Regions from separate parts of the Homo sapiens genome. Here region 1 is linked to region 2. The links come from fine-mapping of genetic effects on gene expression. Tissue or cell type: whole blood. Region 2 holds a variant in brackets; the other region holds the start of a gene. All regions are shown on one strand. Distances are from middle to middle.

Region 1 (5,000 bases), 310 kb before region 2:
TTATGGGCACATGCCACCACGCCCAGCTAATTTTTGTATTTTTAGTAGAGACAGGGTTTCACCATGTTGGCTGGTCCTGAACTCCTGACCTCAGGTGATCCACCCGCCTTGGCCTCCCAGAGTGCTGGGATTACAGGCATGAGCCCCGGCGCCTGGCCGTCCACCTCAGCTTCTTGAGGAGCTAGGACTACAGACAGGTACCATCATGCCCTGCTAATTTTTTTCATTAATGTTTTGGAGGCAGGATCTCACTATGTTGTCCAGGTTGGTCTCTAACTCCTGAGCTCAAGCAACCTGCCTGCCTCGGCCTCCCAAAGTGTTGGAATTACAGGCGTGAGGCACCATACCCAGCCCTGGATCCTCTCTTTTATCTCCAATTTGGGGTCCAAGGAGACAAGTGAGAGTGGAAAAATTAATACTGTTTATTATTATTTAAAACATCTAAGCACTGTACCAAGTACTTCACATATATTTTGTTTAACCTTCACAACAACCCTGTCAAACGGATGCAAACGTGGTTTTCATTTTATAAATAGGGAAACTGAGGCATTCAAGATTAAGTAACTTCCCTAAAAGCTCATGGTTAGTAAGCAGTATCTCTAAAATTCAAACTCAGCAGTCTGACTCCAGAGCCCAGGTTTGTGTTTTTTTTTTTTTTTGAGATGGAGTCTCACTCTGTCACCAGGCTGGAGTGCAGTGGCGCTATCTCGGCTCACTGCAACCTCCACCTCCCGGGTTCAAGCGATTCTCCTGCCTCAGCCTCCCGAGTAGCTGGGACTACAGGTGCGCGCCACCATGCCCAGCTAATTTTTGTGTGTGTGTATTTTTAGTAGATACAGGGTTTCACCATGTTGGCTAGGATGGTCTCGATCTCTTGACCTCGTGATCCGCCCACCTCAGCCTCCCAAAGTGCTGGGATTATAGGTGTGAGCCACCGCACCCAGCCGAGCCCAGGCCCTTAAGACCTGTTTTTGCTCCTCCCAAACTCTCAGATGCTCTTCCCCACTCTATTACTTACTAGCTGTGCCCCCCAGGGCAGCATGCTGCAGCTCTCGCTCCCTTCGGTCCAACTCCTCTGCCTTCCGGTTGAGCTCCTCCTGTTTCTTCAGCAGCTCAGCTGTGGCTGCTGCAGCTGAGGCCTGCCCAGTGTGAGCAGACGGAGATGTGAGCCCTGGGCCCCAGGACTGGCCCTTCTCCCCAGCCCTCACCTGCACACCTCCTGTACCTGAGTGCTGTATGAGCCATAGTTCTTAGGTTCTGTGGGGCTGAGCTTTCTCGAGGGCTGCAAGGAGGGAGCTGAGGGTGGAGGCAATGGGGCAGGGGCTGGAGGCTCATAGGCTGGTGGTGGCTGTTGAGGAAAAGACCTTAGTGATCATCTAGTCCCTCATAACACAGGAATCTAGAGTCTGCTTGAATACCTTTAGACCCAGAACTCATGATGTAAGGAAGCAGCCTTTCCCCCATTTGTTAGGAAGCTAGTTCTTCTGTTGAATTTCTGTCAGAGAACTCTATGATGACCTGTAGCAGCCTTATCATCCCTCATATCCAATTCCTTAGTGAGGACTCAAATCACTCATTTACCATATCTCCCCACTTAACTGTGTTTTTTTTTTTTCTTTTCTTCTGGGGATGGAGTGTGGGGTTGTCTCTCTGCCACCCAGGCTGGAGTGCAGTGGTGCAATCATCACTCATCGAAGCCTCAAACTCCTGGGCCCAAGCAGTCTTTCCATCCCAGCCTCCCAAGTAGCAAGGACTACAGGCATGTGCCACTACACCTAGCCAATTTTTAAAACGTTTCAAGAGATGGGGGTCTCGCTGTTGCCCAGGATGGTCTCCATCAAATTCCTGGGCTCAAGCAATCCTCCCACCTCAGCCTCCCAAGTGGGATTACAGGCATGCACACCATGCTTGGCTTTTTTTTTTAAGTTTTAAGTACCATGAAAACCCCTTAAATTCTTACAACTCACCATCTTCTAATCCAGTGGGACAAACAGGTGTAGTCCTCCTCATTCCTTGCTTTCAAACTGCACACCTAACCTAAACTCCAACCAGCCCCAACCTTTATTTTCTTCAAGAAAGCCTTCCCATACAGAACATTGGTTAAGGCCTTGCCAGCCTCCAGATCTTCCCAGGACTGACTTTTAGAGCTCAAACCATTTGGGTTGGTGGCCCTGGTGGCCCTAGAAGGATGAGGCATCCCATGGCTGACTAGCCTCTCTCAGGGAACTAAGATCACAGTGCCTCTTCCTTCCTGTGCATGCAGAAAAGTCCCCTGTACCCAAGCTAACTTGTCTCACTGGCAAACCCTTCCCTTCCTTGAACTCCTATGCTCTCCAGTAGCTCACCTCCCGGGTCTCAAAAGGGTTGTAGACGTCAAGCGTGGCATACTGCCGGCTGGGTCGGTGCTGGATCACAGCTGGGTCCTGAGGGCAGAGACCCGGGTCTCAGCTGGCACCCAGTGCCACCTAGGGGAATTCCCAGGGACCATTCCCAAACTGCCTGTGGCTCCAAGTACTGCACCTTCGGGGCCACGCCGTTGTCCCAGGACTGGGACAACATTTACCTCAAATCCATCATCCAACACTGCCAGCACCAGCCCATTAAGGGGCAGGGCCCGCCCCCCAGAGTGCTCACTGGTCTGGAGTCACTGTCACCCCACGTGGCGGCTCTTCCCAGGATCAAATGTCACAAATGGGGATACAAGTTAGCCCGACCCTACAGAACCGGGAAGAATCAACCTGACCGCCCAAAAGAGGCCGACTGGCGCAAGTCACCTGAAAGGGGTTGTCAAGCTCGCTGGGCTCGGCGAACGGGTTTCCGCCGTCTCTGCTCTGAGCCATGTTTGCAACTGCGGCCTCCGCGGCCCTCTGCCCTCCACGCCCCTGCCGCAGCAGTGGCGGTAGCGGTAGCCCTCAGAGTCCACTTCACTCGCCTCAGTTCGCCCCGCTTCTCTGTGCACGGATTGGTTCCACCGACCGGAAGGGCCACAAGGATCCCCGCAGCAGCCGTGGGTTGCGCCTGCGTCTTGTCCAAAAGCTAAGACGAAAGTGCCCCCACGTGATACCTCTAACCCAGTGCCCACAACCAACTACCGCCCCTCTTCCATGTGACTTCCTTCCACTAACGAACTACACTTCCCAGCAGGCCTCGCGTAGGAATCCGGCCTTCCTAGTCTCCCGAGATGGACGACGGGAGCCTTCTGACCGGTCGTGGCAATCCCCCCTAGGAGCCAGGTTGAGCACGTTTTCAACCTGAGTTTCTGGCTCTATACTGGGCCGCGGCCTAATGACTCTAGGAGTCAGATCTTTCCCAACTCTCATAATTCCACATCCGAGAAGTGCCACCTCATAACACTTCTCTGTTTTAATCTGAAAGAAATGCTGCCCCACCCATCACTACCCTCCCATATGATAAGGTGGACAGGGGAAATAAACTGGTAGCCTGGCTGTGCTTCATTTTGGAGGGTAAGGAGGACTCCCTTCATACCCAAACTCAGAAAGTTTGCCAATAGTTTCATCCCTCCACCCCAGCATTCCCAAACCTCCAACTCCAGGGATGGGGGTCAAATGAAGCACGTTATTTTATTTCACAAAGACTGTACAAAATTCCTTATAAAACATGGGGTAGATGCCACCTGGTTACCTCACTCGGCCCCCATCCAACTCCGTATGAGGGGGCAGGTGAGGGTGGAAACTGTGTGGATGGAATAGTATTATGTACAAGGCAGGGGTTGAAGTGATAGGTACAAGTTCTTTCATATTTACACTATTTCACATATTCACAGGTATATAGAGAGCCAGGAGGAAGGAGTGAACTCTGGCTCGTTCTCTTGTATAAAAAAGCACCAGTGTCCTGGACTGGACACCCACTGCTATAAAAGATGCAGGGGGGCCCAGGGCCTGATCGTCACCGACTGATATCCCGACTGGAGTCCCACAACTTGTTGGGCGGCTCAGCCCGAAGGCGGGCGAAGAAAGGATGCTGAAGGGCTTCACCCAAGGTCAGCCGCTTAGCTGGTTCATACTCTAGCATGCTTTCAATCAGATCGAAGAGCTGGTGGTGTTCCTCTGCCTCTGAGGTCAGATACCGCTGGTGGAGGAGGGCAGGAAAAAGGTGAGGCAGGATGCCTTACAAACCCTGCCTTCTTCAAGACCCTACCTTTCATTCTTGGAGAACCAAGGCTCTGCTTGCAACCAATTTGAAGGCTACCTAACCACGACCACACCAGGACCAACGTTTCTGATATTATAGCTCAACCTACCTTCCCACTAGCACAATTACTCCATAATCTTTGAAAGTTCTTTCTACTTGTATATCCTTGTCAACTTCATGAATCTTCTTTAGTTCCTCATTAAAATGTAAGCTCTTCAAAGGTAGTTTATTCTTTTCTGTCTGACCTAAAGAATCCAGGACATTGCTTTGATCTCTGGTTGTCTCAAGGTTAGGCTGTCTAACCTCCTTCCCTCCACAAAACCACTCCCTCTTATGTTTCCTCTGTTGACCAAAGATGTCTTCTTTCAGCTTTCCTCCCCTCCTTTCCTAACCCTCTGCTTGTGAAGAGCATTCCAGGGGGCAAACCACCCTAAGAAGGAAGTGACTTCTGGACGGTGGGCACTATTTATCCCGAGCCCAGCTCACCCGCAGCGGTTTGCAGTTCTCACGAACATAGCGCCCAGCTGATGTGTTCTCATCCCAATCCAGGCGACCCCGGTAAAAATATTTCTGCTTTCTAGAGGGGAAGGGGAGGTTGAGGAATCAGAAGGTCACCCTTGTTACAATTCCCTTATTTCCCCATCTGAAAGTAACTGGGGGGAGAGGAGGTATCAAAGAAAAAAGAAAATGATGTGAAATAGACCAATTCTGTGGAGAGAAAAGGAAAAGAGTTAACTAGTGCCCCCTCAAGGTTCACCTTGTCTTTCGGATCATCCGGGAAGGGATAGGACCCAAGATCCTTTCCATCATGGCTAGATGCTCTCTGTTGTCATGGGTCTGGGAAACAA
Region 2 (10,891 bases):
GATACAGTGTGGAGTCCATTTTGCTGAAGAGTATCTAGAATATCTGCTACCCTAAGAAGCAGTCATAGTCCCTTCCATAGTAGTTTAAGTTTTAAATTGTCCACTGTTCTGAGTAACGTGATGAAATTTTGCACCACCCTGTCCTGGATATGAATCAACATAACCACGCTGTACGTGCTCCCATTGGTCAGTCATTGACATCATCGGCTTTTGACATCCATCTGTGGACATCAGCATGACTCAGTGATTCAGGATCACCCTAAGATGATCCCCCTTCTTAGGTATAGTCAGAAGGTTGATATTAGCTACATCAGAATTCCTAAGTCATTCACTTTATCTTATCTTATAAGCGTTTTATCATCTCACTTCAACACAAGAAGGGTGAGCACGGTACTATGAGATATTTTGAGAATGAGCGAGACCATGTTCACATAACTTTTGTATGGTATATTGTTCCGTTTTCTTATTGGTTATTGCTGTTCATTTGTTACTGTGCCAGATTTATAAATTAAACTTGATTATAGGTATATACCTATAGGAAAAAACTGTGTGTGTGTGTTTGTGTGTGTGTTTATTTATTTAGTGATCAGTACTCTGTATGGTTTCAGGCATCCCCTGGGAATCCTGCAGTGGGATCTCCCGAGGATAAGGGTGGACTACTGTATTTCCTTCCTTCTTGCTTTCTTCATTGCAGAAGAGCTAATGCAGCTTTAAAAGCTGGGGAGCTTTAAAAAGTGTATATTGTATCATCACTTGCACTGTTATCAGAATTGTAAACCACATGCATTATTTCTAGCAAAAACACCTATAGCTACAAGACTGAGGTTGGCCGGACACAATGCTCACATGTATAATCCCAGCACTTTATGGGAGGCCAAAGTGGGAGAATTGCTTCAGGCCAGGAGCTGAAGACCAGCCTGGCAACATAGCCCCATCTCTATAAAAAAGTAAAAATTAGCCAGTCATGGTGGTACATGCCTATAGTCCAAGCTTGTCGAACCTGTGGCCCATGGGCTGCATACAACCCAGGACGGCTTTGAATAGGGCCCAACACAAATTGATAAACTTTCTTAAAACATTAAGAGCCTTTTTTTTCTGTGATTTCATTGTTGTTGTTGCTATTTTAGCTCATCAGCTGTTGTTAGTGTTGGTGTGTTTTATGTGTGGCTCAAGACAATTCTTTCGACGTGGCCCAGGAAAGCCAAGATTGGACACCCCTGCTGTAGTCCAAGCTCCTCAGGAGGCTGAAGGGAGAGGATCACTTGAGCCCAGGAGTTCAAGACTGCAGTGAGCGATGATACCACTGCACTCAAGCCTTGGAGACTGCAGGAGACCCTATCTCAAACAAAAACCTTAGAGCTTGGAGAAGTTAGCACTGTTGAAGTTTGTGATAATCAGTAAATTTCAGAACTCTTTTACTTTTATAGCTCTAACATTGCTCTAGGAATCCAAACCTGGGGAGATAGATATTATTAAGATGAGAAAATACAGCATAAGGAATTCTGCTTTTTCTCTCTGAAATTATGAAAACAATGAAATTACTCTTTGTGGCTTGGCATGGTGGCTTACGCCTGTAATCCCAGCACTTTGGGAGGCCGAGGAGGGCAGATCACTTGAGGTCAGGAGGTCAGCCTGGCCAACATGGTGAAACCTCATCTCTACTAAAAATACAAAAATTAGTCGGATGTGGTGGCAGACACCTATAATCCCAGCTTCTTGGGAGGCTGAGGCAGGAGAATCATTTGAACCCAGGAGGCGGAGGTTGCAGTGAGCCAAGATTGCGCCACTGCACTGCAGCCTGGGCGACAGAGTGAGACTCTTGTCTCAAAAAAAAAAAAAAAAAGAAATTAGTCTTTGTGAGCCAAACTTTTCCTATGGGACTTGGGATTTAGGACAATCTCAACCTCAACACTGTTGACATTTGGGGATGGATCATTCTTTGTTGTGGGGGACTCCCTGTGCATTGTAGACTTTAGCAACATACCTGGCCTCTACTCACTCGATGCCAATAGCATCCTCCCTTCCCTCCCTCAGCTGTGACAACCAAAATGCCTCCAAACATTCATTGTCAAATGTTGGGGGAGGGGACAAAATCCCCCTGGTAGAGAACTACTAATTTAGAGAAAGAATTACTGATCATGAGGAATCAGTCTGGGTTTAGTACAAAAGAAAGTCATGACAGACAAATATATCCTTCTTGTTAGAATTCCTGGAATGGCCGGGTGCGGTGGCTCACGCCTGTAATCCCAGCACTTTGAGAGGACAGGCTGGTGGATCACGAAGTCAGGAGTTCAAGACCATCCTGGCCAAGATGGTGAAACCCCGTCTCTACTAAAAATACAAAACTTAACCAGCCATGGTTTCGGGCACCTGTAATCCCAAGCTACTCGGGAGGCTGAGGCAGAGAATTGCTTGAACCCGGGAGATGGAGAATTTTTTTTTCTTTTTTTTGAGATGGAGTTTCGCTCTTGTTGCCCAGGCTGGAGTGCAATGGCATGATCTCGGTTTGCTGCAACCTCCGCCTCCTGGGTTCAAGCGATTCTCCCACCTCAGCCTCCCAAGTAACTGGGTTTGCAGGCATGCGCCACCACGTCTGGCTAATTTTGTATTTTTAGTAGAGATGGGGTTTCTCCATGTTGGTCAGGCTGGTCTCGAACTCCCGACCTCAGGCGATCCACCCGCCCTGGCCTCCCAAAGTGCTCAGATGACAGGTGTGAGCCACTGCGCCAGTCAAAAAAAAGAATTCTTAGAATGGTAGATCAAATTCCATTATTGGTATGTCCTCATTAAAGTTAGGCATTTGATAATCTCGCACAGTGGCTTTTTGGAGAAATGTATACTGAATGTTTAATTGGTTGAATAACCATACCCAAAGGCTACATGTTAGCAAAATGGGTTGAAGTTCCCTTAACCATGGACATACAGGCAGTGGTTATCACTCTTGGCTGCACATTGGAATAAGCTGGGGAGCTTTAAAAATATTGATGCCTGGGTCACTATCAGAGGCTGATTTAATTGATCTGAGGCACACTCTGGGTATCAGAATTTTTAAACTATACCCAAGTGGGCCAGACAGTGGCTCACATCTATAATCCCAGCACTTTGAGAGGCCAAGGCAGGTGGATCGCTTGAGCCCAAGAGTTTGAGAGCAACCTGGGCAACATAATGAGATCCTTTCTCTACAAAAAAGATAGAAAAATTAGCTGGGAATGGTGGCACACGCCTGTAATGCCAGCAGTTGAGAGGCCAAGGTAGACAGATCGCTTGAGCTCAGGAGTTTGAAACTAGCCTGGACCACATGGCGAAACCCTGTCCCTACGGAAAAAAAAAATACGAACTGACCAGGCGCAGTGGCTCACGCCTGTAATCCCAGCACTTTGGGATGGTGAAACTGGCTGATCACCTAAGGTCAGGAGTTTGAGACCAGCCTGGCCAACATGGTGAAACCCTGACTCTACTAAAAATACAAAAATTAGCTGGGCGTGGTGGCAGGTGCCTGTAATCCCAGCTACTAGGGATGCTGAGGCAGGAGACTTGCTTGAAACCAGGAGACAGAGGTTACAGTGAGCCGAGATCACGCTATTGCACTCCAGCCTGGGTGACAAAAGCAAAACTCCATCTCACAAAAAAAAAAAAAAAAAAATTACAAACTGTACCCAGGCTATGCTAGGCAATCGTATCCTGTTAAATAGTTGTATCAATGACTTGAATGAGATCGATGTGGATATATTTTTCAAATTTATACCTTTTGCAAAATTTTTAAAGGGTGGGTAATATGTTGGTGACAGATTTTAAAAAACAAAAAGATCTTCAGATGTGGAATCTTCTGTTGGATCTTATAACAAAAAGAAGACATTAGGCTGGGTGCAGTGGCTCACGCCTGTAATCCCAGCACTTTTAGGAGGCAGAGGCAGGCATATCGCTTGAGCCCAGGAGTTGAAGACCAGCCTGGACAACATGGTGAAACCCCATCTCAACAAAAAACACAAAAATTAGCCAAGTGTAGTGGCATATGCCTGTAGTCCAAGCTACTTGAGAGGCTGAAGTCCAAGGATTGAGGTGGAGATTACAATGAGCCAAGATCACGTCATCACACTGCAGCCTAGGTGACAGAGCAAGACCTTGTCTCAAAAAAAGAAAAAGACATAGCAGAAAAGCTGAGGAAATCCAAATAAAATCTGTAGTTTAGTAAATAGTATTGTTCCAACTTTAATTTCTTAATTTTGATAACTGTCCTATAGTTGTATATATATATATAGACATATATATAACATTAAGGAAAGCTGAATGAAGAGTGTACGAAAGCTCTTCGTACTACGTTTGCAACTCATCTGTAAGTTTACATTGGTTTGTTTGTTTGCTTGCTTTCAAATAGGACCTCACTCTGTTACCCAGGCTGGAGTGCAGTGGTGCAATCCTAGCTCACTGCAACCTCTAGCTTCTTGACTCAAGGGATCCTCCTGCCTCAGCCTCCTGAGCAGCCAGAACTACAGGCACAGGCAACTATGTTCAGCTAATTTTTTTTATTAGTAGTAGAGATAAGGTTTTCCTATGTTGCCCAGGCTGGTCTCGAACTCCTGGTCTCCGAAAGTGCTGGGATTACAGGCCTGAGCCACCGTGCACAGCCTCCACTATCTAATTTTAGAACTTTTTCTTTTTTTTTTTTTTTTTTGAGACGGAGTCTCCTGTTGCCAGGTTGGAGTGCAGTGGCACTATTTCGGCTCACTGCAACCTCCACCTCCCGGGTTCAAGCGATTCTCCTGCCTCAACCTCCCGATTAGCTGGGATTACAGGCATGCGCCGCCATGCCCAGCTAATTTTTGTATTTTTAGTAGAGACGGAGTTTTGCCATGTTGACCAGGCTGCTCTCAAATTCCTGACCTCGGGTGATTCACTCGCCTCAGCTTCCTAAAGTGCTGGGATTACAGGTGTGAGCCACCATGCCAGGCTAATACTTGTACTTTCTATGAGTAAAAATAAATGAGTTCTTTGACC[C/A]TCAAAAAAAAAAAGAGAGAGAGAGAATCCCAGTTTTTCCAGATCCTGTCCAACACATATCATTGTCAGTTCTTTTGATTTGAGCCATCCTAGTGGGTGTGAAGTGGTATCTCATTGTGGTTTTTATTTGCATTTTCTAGATGACTAATAATGTTGAGCATTTTTCATGTGCTTATTGGCCATTTGTATAACTTTTATACTTTGGAGAAATGCCTGCTCAAATCTTTTGCCTTTTTTTTTCTTAATTTGAGTCAGGGTCTCACTCTGTTGCCCCCGGCTGGAGTGCAGTGGTGCAATCACGGCTCACTGCAGCCTCAGCCTCCCAGACCCAGGTGATCCTCCCCGCTCAGCCCCCCAAATAGCTGGGTCCACAGTGGCACGCCACCGCACCTGGCTAATTTTTTAAATTTTTTGTAGAGAGCAGGTCTCATTATGTTACCCAGGCTGGTCTCAAACTCCTGGGCATAAGCAATCCTTCTGCCTCAGCCTCACAAAGTGCTGGGATTGCAGGTGTGAGCCACTGCACCTGGCTCTTTTGCCTATTTTATTTATTTATTTTATTGTTTATTTTTGTCTTATTTTATTTTTATTTATTTATTTATTTATTTATTTATTTATTTATTTATTTTTGAGACAGAGTTCGCTCTGTTGCCCAGGCTGCAGTGCAATGGCGTGATCTCGGCTCACTGCAACCTCCACCTCCTGGGCTCAAGCGATTCTCCTGCCTCAGCCTGCCAAGTGGCTGGGACTACAGGCACACGTCACCACGCCCAGCTAATTTTGTATTTTTAGTAGAGAAGGGGTTTCTCCATGTTGGCCAGGCTGGTCTCAAACTCCTGACCTCAGGTGATCCGCCTGCTTCGGCCTCCCAAAGTGCTGGGATTACAGGTGTGAGCCACCCCGCCAGGCCCCCCATTTTTAAATTGAGTTGCCTTTTTATTAAGTTGTAAATGTTCTTTATATATTATGGAGATAAGTTAAGTTCTATGTGATTTGCAAATATTTTCTCCCATCCTGTGGGTTGTCTTCCACTTACTTGATGGTATCCTTTGAAGTACAAGTGTCTGATTTGGATACAATTCGTTATCTATTTATAGTTTTTTTGTTTTGTTCTGTTTTGTTTTTGTTTTTGTTTTTTGAGACGGAGTCTCTGTCACCAGGCTGGACTGCAGTGACGCGATCTCAGCTCACTGCAACTTCCGCCTCCCGGGTTCAAGTGATTCTCCTGCCTCAGCCTCCTGAGTAGCTGGGACTACAGGTGCGCACCACCACGCCCATCTAAGTTTTGTATTTTTAGTAGAGATGGGGTTTCACCATGTTGGCCATGATGGTCTCGATATCTTGACCTTGTGATCCGCCCACCTCAGCCTCCCAAAGTGCTGGGATTACAGGTGTGAGCCACTGTGCCCAGCCTATTTTTAGTTCTTTTGCTTGTGCTTTTGATGTTATATCTAAGAAACCATTGCATAACACACGATAATGAAGATTTACTCCTGTATTTTCTGCTATAGAAAATTAGAGGCTGAGCGCAGTGGCACACGCCTGTAATCCCAGCACTTTGGGAGGCCAAACTGGGTGGATCACCTGAGGTCAGGAGATCGAGACCATCCTGGCTAACATGGTAAAACCCCATCTCTACTAAAAATACAAAAAATTAGCCGGGCGTGGTGGCAGGCGCTTGTAATCCCAGCTACTCGGGAGACTGAGGCAGGAGAATGGCTTGAACCCGGGAGGCGGAGGTTGCAGTGAGCCGAGATCGTGCCATTGCACTCCAGCCTGGGCAACAAGAGCAAAACTCCGTCTCAAAAAAAAAAAAAAAAAAAAAAAAAAAGTTAGAAAACTCACCCCTGCAAGTTTTTTTTTTTGTCTTTTTTTTGTTTGTTTGTTTGTTTTTTGAGATGGAGTCTCGCTCTGTCACCCAGGCTGTAGTGCAGTGGCGCAATCTCAGCTCACTGCAAGCTCCACCTCCCAGGTTCACGCCATTCTCCTGCCTCAGCCTCCGGAGTAGCTGGGACTACAGGCGCCTGCCACCACGCCCGGCTAATTTTTTGTATTTTTAGTAGAGATGGGGTTTTACCATGTTAGCCAGGATGGTCTCGATCTCCTGACCTCGTGATCCACCCGCCTCGGCCTCCCAAAGTGCTGGGATTACAGGCGTGAGCCACCACGCCCGGCCGCCCCCTCCAAGTTTTATACCTGTAGCTCTTACATTTAGGTCTATGAGCTATTTTGCATTCATGTTTGTGTATAATGTAAGGTAGGGGTCCATTTTCATTCTTTTGCATGAGTATCAGGTTGTCCCAGCACTATTTGTTGAAGAGACTATTCTTTCTTCATTGAAGTGTCTTGGCATCCATGTTGAAAATCAGTTGACCATGATGTAAGCGTATGCCAGTACCAGACTATCTTGATTACTGTAGCTTTATCGTAAGTTTTGGAATCAAGATGTATGAGTCCTTTAAATTTGTTATTTTTCAAGAATGCTTGGGCTATTCTAGGTCTATGGCATTTCCATATGAATTTTGAGATCAGCTTCAAAAGTTTTTTCTTAAGACAGGGTCTCACTGTGTCACCCAGGTTGGAGTGGAGTGGCGCGACGCTAGAGTCCACTGCACTTTCGACTTCTCAGGCTCAAGCGATCCTCCCACCTCAGCTCCCCAACTAGCTGGGGCTACAAGCACGAGCCACTACACCCAGCTAATTTTGTATTTTTCGTAGAGACGGAGTTTCACCCTGTTGCCCAGGCTGGTATCGAACTCCTAGCTCAATTGATCCACCCGCCTTGGCCTCCCAAAGAGCTGGGATTATAGGCATGAGCCACCGCACCTAGCTAGCTTGACAATTTTGACCAAAAAGATTGCTGGGATTTTGATAGTAGCAATATTTTTTTAAAAAAAGGACTGGTGATTTTAGTGAACTGTGTTCTCCGTATGAAGCACTGGTGTGATGGAGTTACAAAAGTCGCTCTTGGAAATATAATATCCTAAATTAGGGAAACAGTAGATCATACCTGAAGTGTATTGGGGTAATATAGAGAAGGGACTTGTACTGCATGATAATTGCTTTAGGAAACTGAAAGCATTTATGGGGGAGGGGTGGGGAGCAGAGGACCATAACTACCTTTCTTTTTTTTTTTTTTTTTTTTTTTTTTTTGAGATAGAGTCTCACTCTGTCACCCACACTGGCGTGCAGTCTTGGCTCACTGCAACCTCCGCCTCCCAGGTTCACGTGATTCTTGTGCCTCAGCCTCCCAAGTAGCTGGAACTACAGGCATGCGCCACCACGCCCGGCTAATCTTTTTTTTTTTTTTTTTTTTTGAGACGGAGTCCCACTCTTTAGCCCAGGCCAGACTGCAGTGGCACAATCTCGGCTCACTGCAAGCTCCGCCTCCCAGGTTCACGCCATTCTCCTGCCTCAGCCTCCCGAGTAGCTGGGACTACAGGCGCCCGCCACCGCGCCCGGCTAATTTTTTGTATTTTTAGTAGAGATGGGGTTTCACCGTGTTAGCCAAGATGGTCTCGATCTCCTGACCTTGTGATCCGCCCGCCTCGGCCTCCCAAAGTGCTGGGATTACAGGCGTGAGCCACCGCGCCCGGCCCTGTGTGGTTTTTTTTTTGTTTTTTTTTTTTTCAGTAGAGACGAGGTTTCGCCATATTGGCCAGGCTGGTCTCAAACTCCTGACCTCAGGTGATCTGCCCACCTCGGCCTCCCAAAGTGCTGGGATTACAGGTGTGAGCCACTGCACCCGGCCCATAACTACCTTTAATAATTGAAAAGCTGTCATGTGGAAGATGGCTTGTAAAACCCAAGAGGAGGCCAGGTGTGGTGGCTCACGCTTGTCATCCCAGCACTTTGGGAGGCTGGGGCAGGCGGATCACCTGAGGTTGGGAGTTCAAGACCAGCCTGACCAACATGGAGAAACCCCGTCTCTACTGAAAATACAAAATTAGCTGGACATGGACATGGTGGCGCATGCAGGCAATCCTAGCTACTCGGGAGGCCGAGGCGGGAGAATCGCTTGAACCCGGGAGGCAGAGGTTGTGGTGAGCCGAGATCAAGCCATTGCACTCTGGCCTGGGCAACAAGAGTGAAACTCCATCTCAAAACAAGCAAACAAACAAACAAACAAACAAACAAACAAAAAACCCAAGAGGAAGACTAGGACAGTGAATGGAAGCTACAAGGAGACATGTTGCCTCGAACTACTGAAGAACTTTTATTAAAAGCTGTGTAAAAACCATAATGACTTCCTATTGAGTTCCCCATCACTGGAAATCATTAGGCATTTGCTGATTGACAGTGTAGCATATATAGTGGCTAATGGGAAAGGCTTGAGAGTCAAACATAGATTTCAATTCTAAAACTGCCTGATTTTAGGATATATACCCTTGGAGTTAATCTATCCATACTTATTTTCAGCTGAGCATAATAACGTGTACCTGATGGGACTGTTGTAAGATAATGCCTTTAATTTGCTTATTATAGAGCCTATTTCAGAAAAATATTCAGTGATTAATATTAAGATCAATGTAGCACTGATTTAGTTCTGAACGAGTTCAATCCTTAGACTAGGTCGACATAATCTTAAGCATCTGTGGTTCTCGCCTGTAATCCCAGCACTTTGGGAGGCCGAGGCAGGCAGATCACTTGAGGTTGAGGAGTTTGAGACCAGACTGGCCAAAATGGTGAAACCTCGTCTCTACTAAAAATACAAAAATTAGCCAGGCGTGGTGGTGTGTCTGTAATCCCAGCTACTTGGGAGGCTGAGGCAAGAGAATTTCTTGAACCCGGGAGGCAGAGGTTGCAGTGAGCCGAGATCGGGCCACTGCCCTCCAGCCTGGGCAACAGAGCAAGAGTCCATCTCAAAAAGAAAAAAAAAAAAAAAAGAATCTGTTATTCTCTCTGGGTATAGTGGCTCGCACATGTAATCCCAACTACTCGTGAGGCTGAAGGGAGAGGTTGCATGGCCAGCGGTTTGAAACCAGCCTTGGTAACATAATGAGACCCTGACTCTAAGAAAAAAAAAAAAAAGGGCCGAGTGTGGTGGCTCACACCCGTAATCCCAGCATGTTGGGAGATGGAGGCAGGACGATCCCTTGTGCCCAGGAGTTTGAGACCAGACTGGGCAACATAGTAAGACCCTGCCCTGTCTCTACAAAAATAATAAAAATAAATTAGCCAGGCGTGGTGGTGTGCACCTGTGGTCCCAGTTACTTGGGAGGCTGAGGTGAAAGGATCATTTCGGCCTGAGAGTTCGAGGTTGCAGTGAGCCGTGATCACGCCACTGCACTGAAGTTTTAGCACATAGTCTTTGGGATACCTTTCTAAATTTGGCACAGGCTGTTTCTGACTTCCTTCTGAAGTTACATTTGGCCTGTCTAGGCAAGAATACTCTTTTTGTTGTTTGTTTAAAGAAAGATAATTTGGCCAGGTGCGGTGGCTCACGCCTGTAATCCCAGCACTTTGGGAGGCCGAGGTGGGCGGATTGCCTGAGCTGAGGAGTTCAAAACCACCCTGGGCAACATGGTGAAACCCCATCTCTACTAAACACCAAAAAATTAGCCAAGTGTGGTGGCATGCATCTGTACTCGGGAGGCTGAGGCAGGAGAATTGCTTGAGCCCAGGAGGCAGAGGTTGCAGTGAGCCAAGATTGTGCCACTGCACTCCACTTGGGTAACAGAGTGAGACTCTGTCTCAAAAAAAAAAAAAAAAAAAAAGGGAGAGAGAACTCTAATACTCTAACACTACCTAAACAGTTTCATCAGAGTAGCGGCAGAGTTTTACACACAATAGTGTGTAAGAATCTGTGGTTTCTTACAGATTATTACAAATACAAAAAAATGTCTTTTTACATGCATTTGGAAAAGCTTCAAAAGACTAAGGCAACTATTTGGGA

The links. PIP is the estimated chance that this variant, and not a neighbour inherited with it, causes the effect. A credible set is the group of variants that fine-mapping cannot tell apart.
Region 1: it holds the start of SCAMP3, and the variant in region 2 is the best candidate, but not a certain one, in a credible set for the expression of SCAMP3 in whole blood (TOPMed, PIP 0.75).

What each region holds. Positions count from the first base shown.
Region 1 is chr1:155,259,312-155,264,311 of GRCh38, forward strand. It overlaps SCAMP3 (secretory carrier membrane protein 3), which reads right to left and starts at 3,049. Exons shown (of 9, transcript NM_005698.4): 1 at 2,775-3,049; 2 at 2,346-2,423; 3 at 1,226-1,348; 4 at 1,019-1,139. The coding sequence starts at 2,840. CLK2 (CDC like kinase 2) reads right to left here. Exons shown (of 13, transcript NM_001294338.2): 11 at 4,910-4,989; 12 at 4,639-4,729; 13 at 3,557-4,089. The coding sequence ends at 3,907.
Region 2 is chr1:155,570,217-155,581,107 of GRCh38, forward strand. It overlaps a transcript of MSTO1 not described here and the pseudogene LOC101929703. Among named protein-coding and RNA genes, the nearest start is that of ASH1L, 13 kb to the left of the region's middle. RefSeq lists a silencer at 6,791-6,928. The variant C/A (reference allele first, on the strand shown) is at 4,996.